Regions from separate parts of the Homo sapiens genome. Here region 1 is reported to be linked to region 2. Evidence: microRNA targets listed by miRTarBase, many of them from high-throughput screens and not tested one by one. Region 2 holds a microRNA gene; the other region holds the end of a gene's coding sequence.

The links. The annotated mature microRNA hsa-miR-1909-3p reads CGCAGGGGCCGGGUGCUCACCG and lies in region 2 at 1,631-1,652, opposite strand. An mRNA with a match to its seed (bases 2 to 7 or 8) in the 3' UTR can be bound and repressed. Matches are read on the target gene's strand: a 7mer-m8 pairs with bases 2 to 8, a 7mer-A1 pairs with bases 2 to 7 and ends in A, and an 8mer does both.
Region 1: the mRNA of CLCN5 is a reported target of hsa-miR-1909-3p. The part of its 3' UTR that is shown has no 7-base or 8-base seed match.

What each region holds. Positions count from the first base shown.
Region 1 is chrX:50,091,335-50,094,735 of GRCh38, forward strand. It overlaps CLCN5 (chloride voltage-gated channel 5), which reads left to right. Exons shown (of 15, transcript NM_001127898.4): 15 at 795-3,401. The coding sequence ends at 885. Among named protein-coding and RNA genes, the nearest start is that of MIR502, 78 kb to the left of the region's middle.
Region 2 is chr19:1,814,539-1,817,939 of GRCh38, forward strand. It overlaps MIR1909 (microRNA 1909), which reads right to left and starts at 1,700; the gene lies at 1,621-1,700. It overlaps REXO1 (RNA exonuclease 1 homolog), which reads right to left. Exons shown (of 16, transcript NM_020695.4): 11 at 3,169-3,242; 12 at 2,681-2,791; 13 at 2,160-2,275; 14 at 1,893-2,031; 15 at 1,687-1,807; 16 at 710-1,616. The coding sequence ends at 1,528.

The DNA.
Region 1 (3,401 bases), not on the chromosome of region 2:
CTTCTGACTCCCAAGCCCATGGCTCTTTCCTTCCTGGGATAGTTCTTATCCAGTAAAGGGAACCCTTCTATTTTTATTGGAAAAGAAAGGAGGTTGAGGAGAGGGGTGGATTTTTTTCCCAAACATGCTACGTTAATCCAGCAATTATATAAGAATTTCACATCTGAAATTTCTAAATGGTGTAACAGATGCCTTGCAGGATTTAAATCAGTAAGGGGAGTTCCCTAACTGGTTCATTCAACATCTGCTGAATCCCTGCTCCATGTAAGAAGGTACTCCACTGGATTCCAGGGAGACACAAAAATTAATAAGACCCTTCTGTGCCCTCAAGGAGCAGACAGTGTTTTAAGGAAGGCAAGAACCTAGCAGTGGTTATAGTACAATAGCAAAGAGGACAAGTGCCACTGAGGAGGCCTGCAAAGAATGTGCATGCTGTTGCTGTGAGGAGGGCAGAGTTCCTGCTGGCTCATAGAATCAGGGAAGGTGCTCTGGAATAGGGGCGTTTGAACTGGGCTGCAGTAGATAAGATTCAGATATGTAGCGAAGAGTATTTAAACCAGAGGAAATCGCAGGGTCTGAGACCTAGAGGTAGAAACACTTGCATACATTTAGGAATCCACACATCATCCTATTTGCCTGGGGCACATGTCCTACTCCTGTGATCTCATACTGAAAGGGCAGCTAGTGATCAAAGACAAAGTTGAAAAGGACTGAGGAGGACAAGTATCACCTTTGGGAATGCTATTTTAACTACAGATTTATTTTTGTTTTTTTGTATTGTGTTTGTCTTTTAGGCGATTGCTTGGAATCATTACCAAAAAGGATGTGTTAAAGCATATAGCACAGATGGCGAACCAAGATCCTGATTCCATTCTCTTCAACTAGAATCATAGAGTTCTGGATGTAAAGCGGGAAGGACATTACAGACCATGGATATGTTGTATTAACTGGGTACCCAAAACACATTTTCCATATTTGGATGGTGAAGTCACATTAGTGTGTTGTCTCTTTCCTACAAGTTAACCAGTTGCACTACATAATCTCTGGAAATTAATTTTCTCTTTAGGAGAAATTATAGTTAGGCTTCCATGATGTTACATTAGGAAGATATCATGAAAGAATAAATAAGATTGCTATGGTTTAATTATATTTGCTTTTTAAAAGATTTTTTTAACTTAAAAAGTAGTTAGCCAATATGCAATCACTGAAAACTATGCAAGAGAAATTCCAACCGTCCTGACCTATAACCTGTAGGAAACCGACGAAAAAGTCACTCTTTTGGGATCTAACTGTTGTTACTGGAAGACGAAGTGTAAACTAAGGGGCTTTGCTTTTCAAACCAGAGAAAGGAAAGCCAGAAGGAAAAGAGTAATGGTATTTTCTAGACTGTGAAGATTCAGTTCAAATGTTATCCTTGTTCCTGTTACAATATTTAGCATTATTAGTTTGTTATGTGTGTATGTTTATGTTAATTTTAATTTCTGATTATAAGACAATGCTGCTTTGGTTAATCTCTTCTAAATGAATTTAGAGAGATTGACTTTTATAGCTTGCTTGTTGCTGGTACTCTTTTGAAGTGCACAAAGATAAGTTATAGAGCTTTCTCCTTGTCTGCAAAAACGGTAATTTTCCAGGTGGCATTTGTTAGCTGGTAGACAAGGACTTTGCCGTGAATTTGTTAGTAGCAAGGAATGATTTCTTCCAGCTTCCTTGAAATGAATAATTAGTAAACTTCTAAGCAAAGTCAATGACTAGGAGTTTCACATGTTTGTGAGGTCCTAACTAATTCTCTTACCCAGATGCCACCTCCATGAATGATGGTGCTTTAGGCTTCTGGAATATGTAAAAACAGCAAAGGGAACCAAGTCTAGACTGCATACTGGTAAACCAGGGAAGACTCAGAACTGCATATGCATCCTCATGCATTCCTTTGTAAAGACCACCAGTACTAAAATAACTGGACACTCATTGTACCTCCCAGCGATAAGTATGTGTAACAGGCCAGTGTGTTGTCCCCATGATCATGAATTAGGCTTGGGATGCTTCCAAATATATTCAAGGTGTTGGAACAGGATAGGCAGCTGTGACTCCCTCAAGAGTCCTTAGAATTCTAAATAAAATGCAGAGCCATCCTAAGACACAGGGGTATGGACAAGGCCTGGTGACACCAAAGGTGCTTGTATCCAATTGAAAAGGTGCCTGTCTCAATTTCATACCACCTTTATTGCAGTTAAAAAAAAATCACACTCTGGGGACACTTGGTGGAATTACAGAGCCACCATCATCATTCCAACCACTATTTCATTTTCTGTAGTTTTACCTGTGTGCAATTACTCCCCCTCCATTCTGTTCCACTTCTTACTCCTTAGTACCAAATCCTCTGTTTGGGATTGAGCGCTGCTCCTGGTTAATCATTCCTACTACAAAAAAAAATAACTCCCAGGGCTAGTTAAATTGTAAACCAAGGCTCAGCAGTCTCACAACACATGGACCAGAGGTGACACACAGCCATTTCCTTTGCCATGTGGCCCAGTTGCTGCTGCCATGCCTCCATTTCCACACTGGATGCCTACGGCAGTGAGATTTCACTGCCGGGGTAAGAGTTCAGCCTGGATGATTTTATAGCTCTGTTCCTAGCACTTCTCATCATCCTTCCAGCCCAGAATCAGCGGTCATTCTGCATATTCCCACCAACCCTCTACCCCCAAACACTTCAGTGTACCTCATTTTAAGAGTTGCTGATCCCTGATTCTAGGACGTTTTTACCCATAGTTCTTGTCTTTCCAAAATCTGAAATTCTTTTTTTTGCTCAGAACTGGGTAGCCAAGGGTTATTTTATTTTTATCTTTAAAATAATCAAGGCAGTCGCTAGAGTTTCTCCTTGTGAATAGATCACTCTAGCATTTTAATGAAAAAGAAAAAAATCTTTCTGGGGTATGTTGTATCATAGTAATGGCTCAGTAACCACATATTTTGTCCTTTCCATGTCACTGATTCCTTCATATGAGACTATTTGGCTTGACTACCCTGTATATTGTGTAGAAATCAAAGTTCTTATCTGTACATTTCTGGTCCAATACCTGTCTTATTAGTTGTCCTTCCCCACTAAAGTTTGCAAAACAGAAAATGTTACTATTTCTGGTATTTAATGACAATGAAAGGTTTGGTCATATTTCATAGTGCAGTAGCGATAAGGAGGGTGTCTCAAGTTTGCTTTTGTGTTTCTTCTAGGCTTTGTTCTTGATTTTAGACAGATGAGCCAGTGTTAAGGTGCTACTTCAGAGAATAAATTAGAGAAATCAGATAACACTGTGCCAAGGTATACTTTGTAGATGCTAAGCACCGATTGGCCCTCCAGAGAATGACAATATCCCTTTGATACCTCACTCCTGATCAATCTC
Region 2 (3,401 bases):
AGTCCTCTGGGGAGGGCCCCCACGTCCTCATCCCGGGACCTGTGCCCTTGGCCTTGCCCTTCAGCAGAAGCCCAAGACCAGGGTGGCAGGAAACCCACTCCAGGCAACCTGCCCCCAGCTGCTGGGTCCTGTCCCGCAAGGCTCATCACTTTTTCTACTTGAGGTCAATAAAAAGTGGGGCCTAAACACCCCTGGGCCTCCCATTTCCAAATGGGGTCCCGATGCAACCACAGTTGCCCGAGACGTGCGTGCACTACACAATGTGTGGCGTTTCCTGGCAAGGGCCGGAGCAGCTTTCCGTGTCTGCACTCCATCCTTTGACGGGCAACACACAGCAGCTCCCAGTCTCTTTAACCCCCTCTCACCATCTGTGTGCAGTCCCTATCTCTGGGCAGGGCAGAGAGGGAAGCCAGCTCTGTGCACAGGGCCCAGCTCCACACAGGGCTGGGGACACCACCCACTGTCCGAGAGGCACTAGAAGCTGCAGGATGGTGGCCCATGATCTGGGGCTGGAACTGGGACCCCACAGCAGGTGTGGCCCAGCCCTGGGGGAGCCAGCCCTGGGCCAGCTTTTGTGAGGGAAAGTTTCACTGCTCTGTTTTCTCTGCGTTGATGGGAAGAGAATCAGTCCCGGCTGCAGGGACAGTGGCCTCCCCGGGGCACATGCAGAGGCCTCACCAGGCACCAAGACCAAGACCACCACAAAATCTAAAATCCATACAAACATTTATTCTGTCCCTGCCTGGAGGTGAGGGGGAAGGGGGTCCGGAGAGCCCCGCAGAGGAGGACGGGGCTCTAGCGGGAAGACAGTGTCCGGAGGCCGGTGGGCTCCCTCTAGACGGCAGACCCTGGGGCTAACGAGGGGCCAGCTGGGTTCTCAGAGGTCACGGAGTGCAGGGGTGGGGCGGCGAGTGGTGGAAGCCGGCGCCCCCGAAGACCGGCCAGCCCCTGGAGCACAGAGGCGGGTCCAGCCCACACTGCGCTGAGTGTGGCCCTGGCCCCCACTGGGGTCTGTCCCACCCCCACCCCGCAGGAGGGAAGGCAGCAGGCCCGCTCTTCCCGGTGGGAAAGATGCTGTGCAAGTCATCAGGTTTAAATTAAAAATAATAAAAATAACAATACAAAATAAAAAAAGACTGTCTCAAACAAACCTGGGACAAGCCCGCCCCGCGACCCACGTGAGGAGCAGAGGTGCCGGCCACCACCCGGGAGGGAGGGCCTGGCAGGAGGGGCAGGAGGGGCTGCGGGCCGGGTGGGGGCGGGCTCTGTCCTGGTCTCCATCAGCAGCAGTTTCTAGAGACGCCAGAGGGCTGGGGGGCAGAGGGTGGGGACCGGCGGAGGGGTGCGGCAGGACGTGAGCGGGGGTGGGCTGGGCTGGGCGTTCTCTGGCCGCCAGCTCATCCCGCTGCTCTGGGCTGCCTCGGCCAGGTGGACGGGTTACCGGAGATTTATTGCACTGTTTTGGAAGAGGCATGGGGCTAAGGACCAGCGGGACGGCAGGAGAGGCGGGTGGGAGGCGGGCAGGCGTCATCGCTTGGTCTTGGCGTCTTCTCGAACCTTCCAGATCACCAGGTGCATGCAGGCGCCGGCGTCCTCGCTGGAGCTGTGCCCATCCACTGCGGGGCAGATGCGGTGAGCACCCGGCCCCTGCGCAGGGACGGCCCCAGGGCAGGCACCGGCACTCACCATTGTCCTGGATGATCTGTCTGAGGTAGTCGGCCATGAGGTTCCGCAGGGACCGCTTGTAGGGGAGGCCCAGGCGGTGGGGGAAGAGCACAGACGTGTCCACCACGGTGCTGTGGATGACCTGTGGGCAGCGGCAGAGATCAGCGCACGTGGGGCCTGCGCAGGTCCTGCTGGAGAACCGCGCGGGACCCGGGCCGGCAGGGCACCTTCAGGGCCAGGAGGTCGCTCTCCAGGCTGTGTCCGATGAGGATGGTGTCAGCGCTGAACATGCTCAGCAGAACGGCCTGGACGTCACGCAGCGTGACACTTGTGTCGGCAAGGTCAGCCTCCGTCACCCCCGAAAACCTGGGGGAACGGGCAGGAGGGGCACCAGGGCTCAGCCTGGAAGCACTGGCTGGTGGGGCGGGGGAGGGTGGGTCCCTGGGGAGAGGCGGCTGGGAGGGCTCCCAGCTCGTGGAGGGCACTGGCCACACCTGGTGTTGTAGTCCACGATCTCGTTGTCAGGCTTCACGAAGGTGTCATAAACCACGTGCACGTCCGTGTCGACCACCGTGACGCGCGTCAGCTCCAGGCCATATGTGGTGTAGGACTGCGGGCAAGGGATGCACCTCAGATGTGTCCCAGGCACCGGCCTCCCTCCCTCCCCTTCCCTGCCCCTTTGAGTCTCCAGAGCCCCTCCAGGCAGAGGCAGTGACCAGAGACTCTGTGGGACTTCTAGGAGAGGCCGAGTGGGGTGTGACCTCAGTAACCCCCTTTCGCAAAGCCCTCCTGCCTCCCATTCAGAGGCAGAGCCGGGGCCCAGTGCCCGGTGTGCTTGGCTCTGCTGGGAAGTATGGGGTGTTGGTCCAGGGCAGGAGCCACAGGCACCGGTGCTGCGAGAGAAACCCTGAGCGCTGGCCGGTGAGCCAGGCCCAGATGGGGCCAGATGGGGCGGCCGCACCAGGCCAGGTCCTCCCCAATCCTGAACCCGACGCTGGGCAGAGAACAGCCTCACCATCTCGCAGTCCAGGGCGTAGATCCCCGGGTGGGTGTCTCCTGAGAGCTCTTTCTCAAAGGTCTTCACGAAGCCCTCAAGGCGCTCCTTCCGGCCATCCTGCACGTGTTGCTGGGGGTGGAGAAGGCAGGTGAGGGCAGCTTCGGGGTGCAGTGGGGGCGGGGGTGGCAGCAGCAGCACATCTCTGAGCCCTTCGGGACCATCCTATCCATCCATCACGCCCATTCACTGGTTGGGACCCTGGTGAGCAGGTGGGGAAGGGGGCTTGCCAAGAAGACACAGGGAGGACGGCTTCCCAGGATGGGAAGTGGCCAGGGACAGGGCCTGGGGCCTACGGGTGCTACGTTCTCTGGGTAACACAAGAAAGGCTGCCCGGGGGCCCAGACCCTGAGCCCAGGACTGTGCTGTGTCCCGAGACCCCACACCAACGATGGGGAGGCAGAAGTCTGTTGAGAACAGGCAGAGGGGACTGGGACGCCAGGGCTCACCTTTGCGACTTGGCAGCCGACAGAGCCGGCGGCAGCCGAGCAGCACATGTACTGGGTCTCCCAGCCTCCGGCCACTGCAGGGGACACAGACACACAGTCAGGGCCCGGCCAGGCCCACTCCACAGCCCCCGGGGCACTGACCACCTGCATCTACCGAGCCCTACTAGGGAGTGAGGACTGAGGACAGGAGGCCTCAGCCTCTTGGTGGAGCTGGAAGCAGACCAGGCCCCGGC